Linked DNA regions of Homo sapiens: region 2 is linked to region 1. Evidence: fine-mapped expression QTL. A gene starts in region 1. The other region holds a variant in brackets. All regions are shown on one strand. Distances are from middle to middle. Region 1 holds the start of SHARPIN (SHANK associated RH domain interactor). Region 2 holds the start of PARP10 (poly(ADP-ribose) polymerase family member 10).

The links.
Region 2: its variant is fine-mapped to the expression of SHARPIN in whole blood (INTERVAL, PIP 0.96).

The regions. Positions count from the first base shown.
Region 1 is chr8:144,100,546-144,108,848 of GRCh38, forward strand. It overlaps SHARPIN (SHANK associated RH domain interactor), which reads right to left and starts at 3,228. Exons shown (of 9, transcript NM_030974.4): 1 at 3,008-3,228; 2 at 2,506-2,680. The coding sequence starts at 3,208. MAF1 (MAF1 negative regulator of RNA polymerase III) reads left to right here and starts at 3,916. Exons shown (of 8, transcript NM_032272.5): 1 at 3,916-4,313; 2 at 5,095-5,221; 3 at 5,324-5,452; 4 at 5,531-5,696; 5 at 5,798-5,919; 6 at 6,010-6,129; 7 at 6,290-6,418; 8 at 6,543-7,066. The coding sequence starts at 5,139. The coding sequence ends at 6,564. WDR97 (WD repeat domain 97) reads left to right here and starts at 7,194. Exons shown (of 24, transcript NM_001316309.2): 1 at 7,194-7,317; 2 at 7,514-7,650; 3 at 7,771-8,303. The coding sequence starts at 7,206. RefSeq lists silencers at 2,970-3,069, 3,080-3,359, 4,120-4,359 and enhancers at 3,420-3,469, 4,221-4,515, 8,137-8,303.
Region 2 is chr8:143,984,179-143,992,489 of GRCh38, forward strand. It overlaps PARP10 (poly(ADP-ribose) polymerase family member 10), which reads right to left and starts at 2,282. Exons shown (of 11, transcript NM_032789.5): 1 at 2,180-2,282; 2 at 1,877-2,055; 3 at 1,543-1,797; 4 at 1,234-1,470; 5 at 366-1,150; 6 at 32-253. The coding sequence starts at 2,181. GRINA (glutamate ionotropic receptor NMDA type subunit associated protein 1) reads left to right here and starts at 5,878. Exons shown (of 7, transcript NM_001009184.2): 1 at 5,878-6,021; 2 at 7,022-7,424; 3 at 7,514-7,626; 4 at 7,700-7,900; 5 at 8,067-8,195; 6 at 8,287-8,311. The coding sequence starts at 7,046. RefSeq lists enhancers at 1,945-2,384, 2,055-2,958, 7,623-8,124 and silencers at 5,810-6,309, 6,330-6,469, 6,600-6,859, 6,783-7,077, 6,910-6,959. The variant C/G (reference allele first, on the strand shown) is at 3,816.

The sequences.
Region 1 (8,303 bases):
CGCCCTGTGAGGCCCAGCCCACTGCAATGGGGGGGTCCCCATCCAGTGCTGACACAGCTCCCGTGGTCTCAGGCCCACTATATTCTACCATCTCCCTACTAGGATAAGCAGGGCCTTCCACGCACCCAGCGCTGTTCCTGGCCCCGGCCCCGGCCCCGGCCCCCACTGAACCTCAAGGATCACTTATACATGCTCACCTCAGGGTTTGTTTGCTGCTTCCTTGGTCACATGGTTCATGCCATGACCTTCAAATTTCACTCCAGTGTCACCTCAATGAGGCCTTCCCTGCCACCACTTTTTTTTTTTTTTGAGACGGAGTTTCACTCGTTGCCCAGGCTGGAGTGCAGTGGTGTGATCTCGGCTCACCGCAACCTCCGCCTCCTGGGTTCAGGCGATTCTCCTGCCTCAGCCTCCTGAGTAGCTGGGATCACAGGCATGCACCACCACGCCCGGCTAATTTTGTATTTTTAGTAGAGACGGGATTTCTCCATGTTGGTCAGACTGGTCTTGAACTCCCGACCTCAGGTGATCTGCCCACCTCGGCCTCCCAAAGTGCTGGGATGATAGGCGTGAGCCACCGCGCCCGGCCCCTGCCACCGTTTTAAACAGCAATCCTCCCAGCTCCACCATTCTCATTCCCACACCATCTAACAGACTTTCTTTTTTAAAAAACTCTACAGTAATTTTATTATTTTTGTTTTTTTTTTTGGAGACAGGATCTCGCTCTGTCACCCAGGCTGGAGTGCAGTGGCACGATCACAGCTCACTGCAGCCTAGAACCCCTGGGCTCAAGTGATCCTCCCATCTCAACCTCCCGAATAGCTGGGATTACAGGCAGACACGACTACACTCAGCTAATTTTTTTTTTTTTTTTTTTTTGTGAGATGGAGTCTCGCTCTGTTGCCCAGGCTGGAGTGCAGTGGTGCAATCTCGGCTCACTGCAAGCTCCACCTCCTGGGTTCACGCCCTTCTCCTGCCTCAGCCTCCCGAGTAGCTGGGACTATAGGTCCCCACCACCACACCCAGCTAATTTTTTTTTTTTTTTTTTTTTTTTAGTAGTCAGGGTTTCACCGTGTTAGCCAGGATGGTCTCGATCTCTTAACCTCATGATCTGCCCACATCGGCCTCCCAAAGTGCTGTGATTACAGGTGTGAGCCACCGTGCCCGGCCCACTCAGCTAATTTTTAAATTTTTTGTATGTTGCCCAGCCCTGTACTTATTTTATATGTCTGCCTCCTCCCCTCTAAAAATGCAAGCTCCAATAGGATGGGGATGGGAGGTTTTGTTCATGCCAAAGGAGTACCTGGGACAGGGCAGCTGCTGAATACATATGCTTGGTGAATGACTAAAGAGAGCTTAGCTCCTTTTATAAACCCTGAGTTGCTTGAGTCTCTCTTACATCACTGTCTGGCTGTCTTCCTACCCCTCTGGCAGCTCTGCTTATCTCGTTTGTGGGCTGCCCTCTATCTGGGAGCCCCATACTACCTAGTCCTTCATGTTTCTCAGTCTCAACTGCTAACTCTTCCATTTAAGCAGCCATGTGAGCCAGGGGCAGTGGCTCATGCCAATAACAGCTACTTAGGCTGAAGCAGGAGGATCACCGTAGACCAGGAGTTCAAGGCTCCAGTGAGTTAGGGTCACGCTACTGCACTCCAGTCTGGGTGAGAGAGGGAGTCTTTGTCTGCAAAAAACCTCCCAAGCAGCCATGAAACTCAGCTAATTCCATCTTCTTTTTTTTTTTTTTTTGAGATGGAGTCTTGCTCTGTCACCCAGGCTGGAGTGCAGTGGCAAGATCTCAGCTCACTGCAACCTCTGCCTCCGGGTTCAAGTGATTCTCCTGCCTCAGCCTCCCCAAGTAGCTGGGACTACAGGCACACGCCACCACGCCTGGCTAATTTTTGTATTTTTAGTAGAGACAGGGTTTCACCTTGCTGACCAGGCTGGTCTCAAACTCCTGACATCAGGTGATCACCCACCTCGGCCTCCCAAAGTGCTGGAATTACAGGCGTGAGCCACCCCACCCGGCCACTAATTCCATCTTCTAAGCATCTCTAGAAACATCCTTCTCCCCAACCCTATCTGCACCAACCCTTGCCACTGCAGAACTCTGTCTTAAGCAGGAGGTATCTGAGTCTGTCACTCTCCCACTCCTGTCACTCTCCTGCTGCTCTTGGGATGATGTCTTCTCACACAGGTCCTGACCCTGCCTGCTCTGCCTCTTCATGCTTGCCTCTCATCCTTCCTGAGGGTTAAGGAAGTGCAGGCTGAGGTTCCAGGGCTTCCTGGTGGAGGCTGCAACTTGTGCTGGCTGGGGCCTCAGATGGTGTAGGAGACTGACTCCAGCAGCCACTCCAAGTACTCCAAGCTACTCCAGGCTCCACCTACTCCCTCCTGGAAGCCTTCCCAGACATCCAGCAGTGGGGAAGGTGGATCCAACTTCCCCAACCAGGACTGGGGGGCCAAGGCTATTCCAAATTGTAATTGTATCCATTACAGGGCACTGACCATTCTGTCCTTCCACGGTGGCACCTCGGACTAGGACTGCCCACCGCTGAGCTTCCTGAGGGTTGAGGAAGTGCAGGCTGAGGGTTCCAGGCCCTCCTGGTGGAGGCTGTAGCTCGTGCTGGGTGGGGCCTCGGATGGTGTAGGAAACTGACTCCAGGGGCCACTCCAAATTAACCTGAGAAGAGGGAGAGTCCAGGCTCAGGGCGTCCCCCCGCCCTACATCGCACGAGGAGCAAAGAAATACAAGGTAACATTTATAGACCATTTACACGGTCCTAAGCCCTGTACGCCTATCATCAAATCCTCACAATAGCCCTGTAAAGTAGGTCCAGGTAGGTCCCAGTAGGTCCGAGCGTCACCCCCATTTCACGGACGAGAAAACAGAAGCAAAGAAACATAACTGCTTAAGGGCACCCAGGTGGCAAGCGGAGGGGCCTAACTTTGGGCTCCGTGCCCTGCCCGGGCCAAGAGGACTGACCGCGCGCCCTCCGCCCCCACTCACCGCCCCAGGTCCCGCGCCCAGCAGCTCCAGCCGGAAGCGCCCAGGCCGCTCAGGGTCCGCGCTCAGCTGCAGCCTCCGCAGCTGTGCCTCGGCGTCTGGCCCGGCGCCCAGCGGCCTCACCGCGGCGTGCACAGCCAAGAGCACTGCGGCGGAGCCCAAGTCCGAGGCCGCCGCCGCCGCCCCGCCCGCTGGCGGCGCCATCTCCGGTCCGGCCGGGTCCCACCCCTCCGAGCGCGCTTCCGTGGGATCGGGCCGCTGAGCCCCCTCCGCCGGTCGGAAACACGGGCCGCGAACCTGGGGTTCCGGGCGCGCCCAGAGCGTCGGGCCTGGGACGGCGCCGAGTGGTGCACTCTGGCCAAGCCTGCCCCGCTGGCTTTGCCCACAAATGGACACGGCCCGAGGGTCTCCGGACACCGGCTGGGCGAGGCTGGCGGCGTGTACGAGGCTGGGGCAGGGCGGCCGAGGCGCTCACGTTAGAGCTGGTCTTTGGGGGCGAAGGGTCAGGGGGCGAAGCACCGGCCACAACTGAAGGCGGACGCGGCCTCTTCGCCCCAGGGGCTCGGCGGACGTAGATGCATCCAGCGTGCGACTATCCCAGCGCCTAACGGCAGCTGGACTTCGCTCCCGGGACCTCCAATGGGCTGCCACCTTCGCCCGCAGACCCCAGCCCCCGCCACGCCCACACGTCGCACTAGGTTGGCCCGCGCCTCACTGGTTACGGGGTCGACCCCCCTAGGGGGCGGAGCTAGAGAGGCCACGGCCAATGAACGCCGGGGGTAAGCGGGTTAGTACGACGAGAAGAGTGACAGACAGGCTCCATAACCAGTAGACGTAGAAGGCAGAACTGAGTGGCGGGTACGGCACCCGATGGCTATTCGAGCTCTCGATCTCGGAGACTGGAGCGGGCCATTCAGAGGCGCGGGGCCGGGCCCGGCGGACGCTTGTTGTTGTCCGGCCGGGGGAGGCGGAGGTCGCTCGCTCGCTCGCTCGGCTCGCTGACTCGCCGGAGCGCTCTGTGGCGGTCGGCGGCAGGTCGGTCGCGAGAGCGGGCTCTGTGGAAGGGGGCGAGGCTATGTCGCGGTGGCAGCCCGGATGGGCCGGCAGGGCCGGGAGTAACGGGACGTCGCCGCGGAGCTTCTTCCCCCGGATACAGTGCGGCCCGAGCGGAGGCCGCGGCGCCGCCCTCCGATCTTGAAGAGCCCGCGCTGCGCGGAGCCCGCCCCCGCCTGCGCACCGGCACCGACGCGGAGCGACCCAGCCCAGCCAGACCCGGCCCGGCGCGGCCTGATCTAACCCAGCCAGGCAGGTGGGTGTCCGCCCTGCGTCCCGCGCCGTCTGCGTACCCGGAACCACAGCCCCCAGCAGGCCTCGCGCGGCGCGCTGCCTCCTGGGATTTGTAGTTCCACCGCGGCTTGGCTGGTGCCCGACGTGGCCCAGGCGGGCGCTGCCTGGTGACTGCAGCGCCCCAGCGGGGCCGAGGGACCGCCCTCCTAGGCGTCTGGAGAAACTAGGCAATTTTTCCGGGTAGAGTGGAGGAACCTGTAGTTTTCCTCTCCCCGGGCCAGAAAGTAGCCAAAACGAAAGAGCGCCCGCCCAGGTGACCGCAGGGCCCGGAGTCCCAGGTGTCCTGGTTCCTAACCGGGATGCAGCCTCTTACCTTGGCTGAGGAGCCCAGCCAGCCTGAGGGAGACTGCAGGAGTCACGTCCCGTTGCGGACTCAAGAGTTACCCCCATGGTGGCTGGAGCTCTTTTGGAGTGGGCGTGGAGATGGGGAATGGGAATGTTGAGCAACAATCTCAGCCAGCAGCCCCAGGGTGAGCAGGGTCCCCGGTGGTCTAGTCTAGTCCCAGAACTCGCGTGTTCTGCAGGGGGTATGGCTGACCTGGAGCCTGGACTTACCACCCTCAGGTAAAACAGGATCTCTGTCACCTCTCCTGGCCGGGCAGAGAGGGGAGCTCCTGATGTGCAGCCTGGACAGAGGCCAGACTCAGCTTGTTCCTAGCGGCTCCACTTAGTGGGTAGGAGGGCTGAAGGCAGGGCCCCAAGGGGCCAGATAGATACCCATGGTCTGGTCTCTCACTCCCCAGGCAATACTAGCCCCTCTGGAGCACGGAGCTCCTTCCCCAAAGACATGAAGCTATTGGAGAACTCGAGCTTTGAAGCCATCAACTCACAGCTGACTGTGGAGACTGGAGATGCCCACATCATTGGCAGGTGAGGCAGGCTGGGGGGGCTGGCATCTCGGAGGTCACACTGCCGCGCCCTTCAGTGGAACCTGGGGGAAGCATGCTTCATGGTTCTCTCTGCATCCTATAGGATTGAGAGCTACTCATGTAAGATGGCAGGAGACGACAAACACATGTTCAAGCAGTTCTGCCAGGAGGGCCAGCCCCACGTGCTGGAGGCACTTTCTCCACCCCAGACTTCAGGACTGAGCCCCAGCAGGTGAGCCATGGTGGGGCCTACCTGGGGCTGGGGGTTGAGGGGAGGTGATGGGCCCAGCTGATGGTTCTGTCTGTGCAGACTCAGCAAAAGCCAAGGCGGTGAGGAGGAGGGCCCCCTCAGTGACAAGTGCAGCCGCAAGACCCTCTTCTACCTGATTGCCACGCTCAATGAGTCCTTCAGGCCTGACTATGACTTCAGCACAGCCCGCAGCCATGAGTTCAGCCGGGAGCCCAGCCTTAGCTGGGTGAGGGTCAGGTGGAGGGAAGGGACCCACAGCCACCCCACTGTCCTTCCCCACTTTGGGTAGCCCTGGGCTCCTGTCACCCTGACTGTGACCTGCCCTAGGTGGTGAATGCAGTCAACTGCAGTCTGTTCTCAGCTGTGCGGGAGGACTTCAAGGATCTGAAACCACAGCTGTGGAACGCGGTGGACGAGGAGATCTGCCTGGCTGAATGTGACATCTACAGGTGGGCCGGCATCCCTGCAGATGGCCTCCAGGCCTCCAGGTTTGTGGGGCACTTGGCGCCTCACACCACCTGTCACCCTATACTCCCCAGCTATAACCCAGACTTGGACTCAGATCCCTTCGGGGAGGATGGTAGCCTCTGGTCCTTCAACTACTTCTTCTACAACAAGCGGCTCAAGCGAATCGTCTTCTTTAGCTGCCGTTCCATCAGGTGGGCACCCCCCGCCTCCTCCCCCACCTCCCTGTTGGGCCGATACAACTTCCCCAGCTGTGCCATCTCCACCCAGCTTTGCCCTCCCTGAACATCCTCCCTGGGGCCAGCAGCAGGCCTGGGTAGGGGTCCTGAAACTGGTTTCCCTGCCTCCCCTCAGTGGCTCCACCTACACACCCTCAGAGGCAGGCAACGAGCTGGACATGGAGCTGGGGGAGGAGGAGGTGGAGGAAGAAAGCAGAAGCGGGGGCAGTGGGGCCGAGGAGACCAGCACCATGGAGGAGGACAGGTGTGTGATGGGGGCCATGACCCGGGTCCTTGAAGCCTGGAGTGGGTACAACAGGGTGGGGGCCTCCTCTACTTGGTCTAAGTGGTGGCTCCTGAAGGCCCACTGTGTGCCAACCTCCGCCCAGGGTCCCAGTGATCTGTATTTGATGAGGAGGAGCCGAGGCCCCAGCTTCATCCAGCTTCAACCAATGCCTGGACCTGTCCACCTGAGAGGCCCCTGGGGCCTCCCCAGCTGCTGGCCAGACCCTGGCGCTGCCACAGTCCTGGCACTGCCCAAGGCCATACCTGCCTAGCCCTTTGGCTCCATCCTGTGGATGCCCACTCACCCCTCAGACTCCTGCTGCCCATGCTGTGGCCGGACTTGTCAGCAGGGGGCCTGGTGGGAGGAGCGACTGCCCTGCCCAAATGAACTGCCACAGCAGGGACAGCTGGACCGCAGAGTTTATTTTTGTATTTCTACTGGGCCTGCACACTCCAGCCCAAAGGGTCTGTGGCCGGAGGCCCCACGAGCAGGCCCCAGCAGTCACCGGCTCTGGTCTTGGGCCGGCCCCGGTGCCCACCTGTACCCCCACCTCGCCCATTTGGCCGCGTGCACTGAGTGTCACTTTGCTGCAGCTCGTTTCTTTCCAATAAAAGTTTCTGTGACTTAGTGTGGACCTGATGCGGTGTGGGGGTGGGGCCTGCGGTGTGGGAGTGGCCGGCGGCATCTGGTATCCTAGCAACTGCCGCTGCGGGCCGTGACCGCTAAGTCCTGGGAGCTGTTGGGCTCTGGGACCGCAGTTGCTGAAATGGAGGCAGAGGTGTGGGAGGCAGAAGGCTACAACCTAGTTCTGGACTCGGACCTGTATGATGCGGATGGCTATGATGTCCCAGACCCTGGGCTGCTCACCGAAAAGAATGGTGAGGGGGCCTGGCCTCGCCCTCCGGGCATCCCGCTAGGAAGTGGGTCTCATTCGGGCTTGGGTTCCGTCCCCTGGAACAAAACTCCCCTGGGCAGTCCCTGGTAGGGCAGGGCCCCTGGAGGAGGGCTCCCCATAACCGTCAGGGTCGAGGACCTGAGGCTGTAGGTGGCAGAACTTCCAGTTCCTGCCCGCAGAGTTGACTTTCACGGAGCCGTCGCAGGTCCTGCCCTTTTTGACCAGCAGCCAACAGTGGCAAAGCCTGACCCCGCGCGCCCGCGCCCGCCGGCTGTGGCTGCTTCTGCGCACCAGCCTCCACGAAGTCGTGGAAAAGGTGCGGTGTGCCTGTCCTGCGCCTCCTGGCCTCTTTCCGGATCTGGGCCTTCCCTTAGGGGTCCCCTAGGCCGGAGTAGCCCCAACCTTTGATTGCGGGCCCGCCCACCCCGGCCCACAGGAGAAGAGAGCCGAGCTGCGCGCGGCGCGCCTGACGCATGGGCTGGAACCACTGCGCCGCCTGGAGGTGGCAGCCGGGCTGCGCTCGGTGGCGCAGGACCCGGTGGGTGGACGCTTCGTGGTGCTGGACGGCGCGGGCCGCCTGCACCTGCACAAGGAAGACGGCTGGGCACAGGAGACGCTGCTGGCGCCTGTCCGGCTTACGGGGCTGGTGACCGTGCTGGGCCCGCTGGGTGCCGTGGGCCGTTTTGTAGGCTGGGGCCCCGCGGGGCTGGCAATTCTGAGGCCCAACCTCAGCCTGCTGTGGCTGAGCGAGCAGGGGGTGGGCAGGGCCCCGGGTTGGGCGCCCACCTGCTGCCTGCCGGTTCCCGACCTCAGGCTGCTGCTCGTTGCGGAGATGAACAGCAGCCTGGCGCTCTGGCAGTTCCGTTCAGGTGGTCGCCGCCTGGTGCTGCGAGGGTCAGCACTGCACCCGCCCCCGAGCCCAACAGGCAGGCTCATGCGTCTGGCTGTGGCGCCGGTTCCTCCCCACCA
Region 2 (8,311 bases), 120 kb before region 1:
GGGGAGGGCAGGGGTGGGACTCCATCTCTACCTCTTCAAGGCCTGTGTCCAACGTGGCTGTGGCCAGGCGCTCTGTCCCAAAGACACACTGGAACTGAGCCTCCAGCCCCTGGAGAAGGTGCTGCCCTTCTGGGCCCAGGAGAAACCTGGCGCTGCCCGGGTGCTCCAGGCACAACACATGGCAGCTAATGCTGCCCAGCAGGCTCCGCAGAAACTCCTCAGCCGCCTGGCAGGAAGCCTGGGCTCCACAGAGCTGCAGGGCCATTGCAGAGATGGAGTTTGCAGGTTTAGAGCACAGGAAAGGTACTTTGAGTCCCCAGTAGGAGGAGGGGGCTGAAGGTGAGGAGTCCTGAGGGGTCACTCACCCGAAAGCCAGTCATATCCGGTCCTTCAAGTGGCAAGAGAGCGACGTCTCCCAGGCCCGCAAGAAGGTCCTCATGGTAGAGCTGCAGGAAGCGCATCGCCCCTGGCTCCATCAATAGCACCATCTCCACCAGGCCCTCCTGCCCTGCCAGCTTCACACATCCTGGGCTCACAGGCCCTGCCTTCTCCAGAGACCCCATGGTGATCTCCATGGGACCCACCAGCCCCTCTTGCTCTGGTGAGTCCATGGCAATTTCCACCAGGCCCTCCTGCCCCAGCAACCCCTTAGAGGTCTCCACTGGGCCTGCAGACCCCACAGGCCCCAGGCTCATGGGCCCCTCCTGTTCCTGCAACCCCACAGGCCTCAGGCTTACCAGCCCCTCATGTTCCAGAGACCCCATGGGCATCGAGCTGACTTGCTCTGCCTGTCCCAGAGACCCCATGGGACCTGTCCTCAGAGAGGTCCCTGACTGCCCTGGTTCCTGGCCAGAGCCTGTTGTCATAATCCCTCTACCCTGCACCATGGGACCTGTCCTCAGAGAGGCCCCTGACTGCCCTGGTTCCTCGCCAGAGCCCATTGTCACAGTCCCTGCACCCTGCAGAGCCGTCACCAACCCTCCGGTCCTCAGGAGAGCATGCTTGGTAGCCCTAGGCCCCTGGGTGGACGGGTGGTCCCCTCCACTGGTGTTCTCAGCCAGCTCCTCGGGCTCCAGGATGTCGTAGTGGGGGACAAGGCTCAGCTCTGAGCCCTGCAACCGGTGCTCCTGCTGCAACACTCGTTCTGCCACTTGGAGGAAGGGAAAGGACAGAAAGCCTGTCAGATTTCTGCAGGAGAGGGACGGTCGGCTGGGTCTGCCCAGCCCCACTCACCTTGCCACTGCTGGAAGGAGGCAACAGTGCCCAGGGGCCCGGGTAGGCGTTGCAGGTCCTCCAGGGGCCCCCCACCACTGCGGCGCTCATTCTCCAGGTACAACTCCAGCAACAGCAGGTCCACAGAGGCACCATCCCCCACCACACGCACCGCTCGGGCCTGGGGAACCCGGGCCAGGGACACCAAGGTCCCCTCCAGGCCCAGATTCTGGGCCTGCTCCTCCAGGACACGGACATCTGTGGGGTATGTGCAGGTCAGCTCAGGGAATCCCCCCTAGCCAGCACCTCAACCCCAACCCTGCCTCTCACCTGCCTCAGAAAGGGGCTTGGGCAACTGGACCAGAGCCCGGTCTGGCCGGGGGCTGGCCAAGGCACAGCAAGGCTGTACTGGGAGCCCCGAGGCCCGCAGCAAGGCCTGGACATGCTGCTCCAAGCGCTGGGGCGTGGTGCCAGGGGGCAGTCCTTGGAGCAGCAGGCGTGCAGGGGCTCGTGGTGGAGCTGGCCGCAGGCTCAGCTGGGCACCATGTAGTTCGTGATCTGCCTGGGCCAAGACCCTCTCGGCGTCTGTGGGCAGGGGCGGGGCAGGATGTCAGGCATTAGAATATCAGGGCACCCAGGCTGTCCCTTCAGCCAGCCCTCTCACCTGCAGGCTCTCTGAAGGTGAGGACGCCCCCACAGCCCAGTCTCTGCCAGCTCAACACAGGTCCCCCTCCAGAGCGTCGGCGGTTTTCAAAGTAGAGAGTGAGCAGCTCGTCGGGCACGGCAGGGGGCAGTCCACGGACCTCCACTGCCACCCCTGCCTCTGCCTCCGCCATTGCAACCCTGGGACGGGGCATCAGGTGGGTAGGGAAACAGCCCATTCCACCCCTCCTGCCCCTCCCCAGGCCCCTCCAAGGTGTGTCCTCAATGCTCCCCCATTATGGGTGGCCCCACATACAGCACTTACATTCCCCGTGGCCGCTAGGCAGCCTCAGGCCATGAGCTCAGCCAGGACTCCTGTGCCTGCCCCTCAGCAAGCCTAACCCTGCTGGGAGCAGGAAAACAAAAGTGAAACTGAAAGACGGAAGGAGGGAGGGAGCAGCTGGGCCCTGGGCGCTGAGGCCTGGGTACTGGGGCTCAGATGCTTCCTCTCCTGCTGCAGCCTCAACCCCCAGCTGACCAGGAGGTATTGGCCAGGCTGGACCCCTCAGGACCCTCCAGCCAACCCAGCCCAGCCCACCGGCCCTACCTGGCCCACTCCAGCCCCTGGTTGGCAGGGTAGACAGGAGTGTCCCCTGGTGGCCCTCCACTCCCCTGGCCTCCATGGCCTGAAAATGGCCAATCACCCGCCCCACTAAACCCACCAAGGGGCCTGAGTCACTGCCCCTCACTCAGGATCTCCAAGCCTCTGTGTCCATGACACCCTCTGCACACAAAGTGCTGGGTCTCCAGGCCCGCCCCCGGCCAAGGCTGGCCTTCAACGCCCCCAGCAACCTTCTCAACCCTGCTCCTGGTCCCTCACACCTGCCAGGTGCTGAGCATGGGCGGTTCCCCACCCTTGGTCTCCAAGAATGTGCATTGCAGCACAGCCTTCCTCCCGCCTCAGGTCTTGCCTGCCCATTCCTGCAGCTTTCTGTCCTGCCTGCACCTCCCCATCTCACACCATCATTGGCATCGTCACAAGTAACCTCAGAAGGTGACAAGGTAATGGCTCCACTGCATTCCTTGCTGCCGCTAATCCTCACCACAGAAAGGGAAACGGAGGTGCAGACAGGCCCATAGCAGCACCAGGCCTCAAACCTGGGCGGTGCCTTCAGAGTCCACACTCCCACTCGCCACAGATCTCCCACATCACCCAAGCTCCGTTTGCTTCCAGCCTTTCAAAGAGCTGTGGCCACTACCACTCTCCATCTCCTACTTCCCACTCACCCCTCAGCCCACCAAAACCCAGCCCCACCCCTGCTGTTCCTCCCTCCAGGGAGCTGAGGACCCTGGCCAGCCTGCACTCCTAGCCCTGCACATGCCACACCTCTGCTGCCCCGACCCTGGTCCCAGCCTCCAGCATCTCTCGCTAGGTAGCTAGGCTAACCTCTTAACTAGTCTCTGTCTGCCACTCCCATGGTGGGTCCTCAACAGAGGTGTCAGGGTGAGCCTTGTAAAATGACACCAGCAGCTGCTACAGCTCCCAGCATCAGCAACAGTAGAAACCAAAGTCCTGGGGGCCGGGCGCAGTGGCTCATGCCTGTAATCCCAGCACTTTGGGAGACTGAGGCAGGTGGATCACGAGGTCAGGAGTTTGAGATCAGCCTGGCCAACATGGTAAAACCCTGTCTCTACTAAAAATATAAAAATTAGCCGGGCATGGTGGCAGGTGCCTATAATCTCAGCTACTCAGGAGGCTGAGTCAGGAGAATAGCTTGAACCTGGGAGGTGGAGGTTGCAGTGAGCTGAGATCGTGCCACTGCACTCCAACCAAGGTGATAGAGTGAGACTCTGTCTAAAAAAAAAACAAAAACCCAAAGTCCTTTTGAGGACCTGCCCCCTGCCCAGCTGCACCTGACCAGACCTCAGTCCCTTCTCTGGCCCCATGCCCCCTGCACACC[C/G]TGATGCTCAGAGGGCTCCAGGCTCTCAGCTCTTCCTGCAGAGCTACAGGCCACTCCTGCCTCAGTAGCCTGGGACTGGCCCTTCCCTCTGCTTGGCCCTACCTTCCCCACAAACCCCCATGGCCACCCCTCTGGCATGATCTCCCTTACTCTGCCTTTTTTTTTTTTTTTTCTGAGACGGAGTTTCGCCCTTTCACCCAGGCTGGAGTGAAGTGCCGTGATCTCGGCTCACTGCAACGTCCACCCACTGGGTTCAAGGGATTCTCCTGCCTAAGCCTCCCAAGTAGCTGGGATTACAGGCACGCACCACCATGCCCAGCTAATTTTTGTATTTTTAGCAGAGACAGGGTTTCACCCTATTGGGCAGACTGGTCTCAAACTCCTGACCTCAGATGATCCACCTGCCTCAGCCTCCCAAAGTGCTGGGATTACTGGTGCCAGCCACCATACCCAGCTATTTTATTTTTATTTACTTATTTATTTATTTTTTGAGACAGAGTCACACTCTGTTACGCAGGCTGGAGTGCGGTGGCACGATCTCAGCTCACTGTAACCTCTGCCTCCCAGGTTCAAGCCATTCTCCTGCCTCAGCCCCCCCAATAGCTGGGATTACAGGTGCACACCACCACGCCCAGCTAATTTTTTTTTGTATTTTTAGTAGAGACGGGGTTTCACCGTGTTAGCCAGGATGGTCTCCATCTCCTGACCTTGTGATCCACCCGCCTCGGCCTCCCAAAGTGCTGGGATTACAGGCGTAAGCCACCGCGCCCAGCAAGCATTTTATTTTTCTTAAAGGTCTCTCAAATTTTGTGAGCTTCTGCTTCTACAAAGGTAGAAGTTACCTTCTACAAGGGTAAATCCATCCCTGCTTTTTCCACGTTTTCTCTAATGGAACTCATCACAGGTTATCCATTACGCCGACCCTGGCTGCAGAGGGCCTGCCACAGGCACCACTCACACCACAAGCAGACTGGTACAGTTTCGGGAATTTCTGTGGACTGGTTGTCCAGCTGGGGGTAACTTGAAACCAGCCCCGGTGGAGTATTCACACCACGCGCATGTGCAAAACACGCACCCCAGGCTTCCCCTCACTAGGTCCGGCTGCTAAACACTGCGCCAGCGCACCATAGGTGCAGGACTCAGAGCGGCCTGGGAGAGGCCGGCCCTCCAAGGGCGGGAGGGCAGGTGGGGTCTGGGCCCCGGGTGGGAAGGCTGGCAGCAGGATGTACCCTGCCTGTGTCAGTCACTGCTCCCCCAAGAGGACTTGGGAGCTAAGCAGGGAGGTGGCCTGGCCTCCAGTCCTGCTGCATCCCCAAGCCTCAGCCCCTCGCAGCTTGTGAGGACGTTAGGCAGACAAGCGAGCGTTCAGGGTCTCTAGTGTGAAAACAAGACATCGTATTTGTTAGTACAAAGGGTGACTGTGGTCAAGAATAATTGTACATTTTAAAACAACTCCAAGAGTATAACTGGATTGTTTGTAACACGAAGGACAAAATGCCTGAGCTGATGGATACCCCATTTACCTTGATGTGATTATTATCCATGGCATGCCTGTATCAAAACATCCCATGTAGCCCGTAAATATACACCTACTATGTATCCACAAGAATTAAAAAAATAAAAAAGGGTCTCTAGTAGCAGGCCTGGCAGAGTTTGGGCTGACAGAGCAAATGGGGCAATTAAACCACGAGGCCTCGATTTGGGAACTAAAGGATTAGGCTTCTTGATTTGGGAGAGATCTGGATGAAAAGAAGTGAACGTCGGGTTTTAAGGCCGAGAACGGACGGTCAGTCCCGGGCAGCTTCAGCAAATCCCGCATTTAGGAATAAATTTCTTAACTACCGAACGGCCAGTCAAATTGGCCAGACCAGACTTCTGCCTCCAGGGGTCTTCAGCGCCCACCGCCCGACCCCACCCCTCGGCAGACAGTGAGAGGCGGGCCTCTGGCCGGAGCGAAGAGGAACACGCAAGGCGGCGCAGCGGGAGGGGTCCGCGGAAGCCCCGCCCACCTGCCCCTCCCACCCCGAAGCTCGCCCGGCCCCGCCCCCTGCCCCGCCCCGTCACAAGGCCCCGCTGCGTCTTCCGAGCCGCAGGCGCAGGCCCAGCTGAGCGGCCGCCGAGCGGGTGCGGGTGCGGGCGCATCGGCCATCACCGCGCGGCCGCGCAGCGGACACCGTGCGTACCGGCCTGCGGCGCCCGGCCACCGGTGAGTCCCCGGCCCGAGCCCAGGAGCGCCTCTGACCCGCTGCGCCGCGCGGCCTGCCGCCCCCGCCCCCGCCCCCACGCGGATCTTGCGCATCCGAGCGTGGCCGCCTCGGGTCAGTAAGTTGGTCCGGCCGGGGCGCGCGGCAGCTCGCGGCCAGAGGTGGCGGCGGTGGTGGGGGCGGGGAGCCGCGGCGGCCTGGAGCCGGAGGGAGGGGGCGGCGCGCTGCGGCGACTGCTGGACCCGTGACCCTGTGCGCCCCCGGCCCGCGGAGGGCCCATCCGCTCTCGGTGCCAGTGCCACGGCCGCAGCCCCTACCCGCCTCGCCCCACGCCCGCTTTGTTCCCCGCACGCCCCGTGGTCGCTTCCATCCCCCACACACCCCCGCACCCCGCTGTTCCCGGCGTACCCCACTGGCAGGCACCGGCAGCCGATCCAGGCCCGATCCCCCCACCCCGGAGCCAGGGGCCGTTGGGCCCTGTTGTTGGGCTCGCGGGGGTGGGGGGGCTCGGGCCTTTGTTGGTCACAGATGGCCCGGGGATTTCCTGGGATAGAAATAGCCGCCGGCTCCGGCCCCTTAAAGCTGCTTAAGGGGCGGGATGCGGAGGGGAGGGTCCGGGCACACCCCACACGTCCCCGGCCGAGACCCCAGCCTCCGCGCTGAGCTCCCACCCGGGAGACGCCGGCAGCGGCGCAGGCCTCCGGTTGCTTGTGAGAAACGACCCAAGCCCCAAATCCCGAGGCTGGCGGTCGTCCCCTCGCCCGGCCCCTCCCCCACCCTAAAGGCGGCCTAGAGCCCTGGGAAGGCCCCACGGCGCCGCCCGTCCGGTCCTCACGCGCTTCTCCGGGCCCAGGCTCCGGGGCTCCCCACAGCCCGGGGCAAAGGTCACGGTCTTCCCTTGCTTCCCCCTGGGTTCCCAGAAGCAGGTGGAGTTGCGCAGGGCTGGGTCCCGACGCTGTCGTCAAGCCAACTGTTCCACTGTTCCTTGTCTGTCTTCTCTAGGGGCGGACCGCGGAACCCGAGGCCATGTCCCATGAAAAGAGTTTTTTGGTGTCTGGGGACAACTATCCTCCCCCCAACCCTGGATATCCGGGGGGGCCCCAGCCACCCATGCCCCCCTATGCTCAGCCTCCCTACCCTGGGGCCCCTTACCCACAGCCCCCTTTCCAGCCCTCCCCCTACGGTCAGCCAGGGTACCCCCATGGCCCCAGCCCCTACCCCCAAGGGGGCTACCCACAGGGTCCCTACCCCCAAGGGGGCTACCCACAGGGCCCCTACCCACAAGAGGGCTACCCACAGGGCCCCTACCCCCAAGGGGGCTACCCCCAGGGGCCATATCCCCAGAGCCCCTTCCCCCCCAACCCCTATGGACAGCCACAGGTCTTCCCAGGACAAGACCCTGACTGTGAGTCTCAGGAAGGGAGGGGTGGGGTGGCCGGGAGGGCAGGGGGAGGTGCTTGTGAGTGGCGCTGACCCAGCCTGTCTGCTTCTCAGCACCCCAGCATGGAAACTACCAGGAGGAGGGTCCCCCATCCTACTATGACAACCAGGACTTCCCTGCCACCAACTGGGATGACAAGAGCATCCGACAGGCCTTCATCCGCAAGGTGGGTAGGGGCATCTCCAAGGCGGTGGGGGCTGTGGCTCCCAGCGGATGACTCTGAGCGGCTCCTTCCCCAGGTGTTCCTAGTGCTGACCTTGCAGCTGTCGGTGACCCTGTCCACGGTGTCTGTGTTCACTTTTGTTGCGGAGGTGAAGGGCTTTGTCCGGGAGAATGTCTGGACCTACTATGTCTCCTATGCTGTCTTCTTCATCTCTCTCATCGTCCTCAGCTGTTGTGGGGACTTCCGGCGAAAGCACCCCTGGAACCTTGTTGCACTGGTAACCCCCAAACCTGAGCCTCTGTGCCTGGGTCCGGCCATGCAGTCCCACACGCCCACTCTTCCGGGCCTGGTCACCGTGGTTCTCCTTGTGCTCATGAGGCAGGGGCCGGCAGGGGTGGCATGGGGGCACACACCCAAGGTCAGCCTGTGTCTCCCAACTGCAGTCGGTCCTGACCGCCAGCCTGTCGTACATGGTGGGGATGATCGCCAGCTTCTACAACACCGAGGCAGTCATCATGGCCGTGGGCATCACCACAGCCGTCTGCTTCACCGTCGTCATCTTCTCCATGCAGGTGAGGGGCCTCCCGTGGCTGGGCTGTGGCCGCAGGGGCTGAGCAGCTTTCCCAGGCCCAGCCCCATGGCCCGTTCCTCTCCCACCTGCAGACCCGCTACGACTTCACCTCATGCA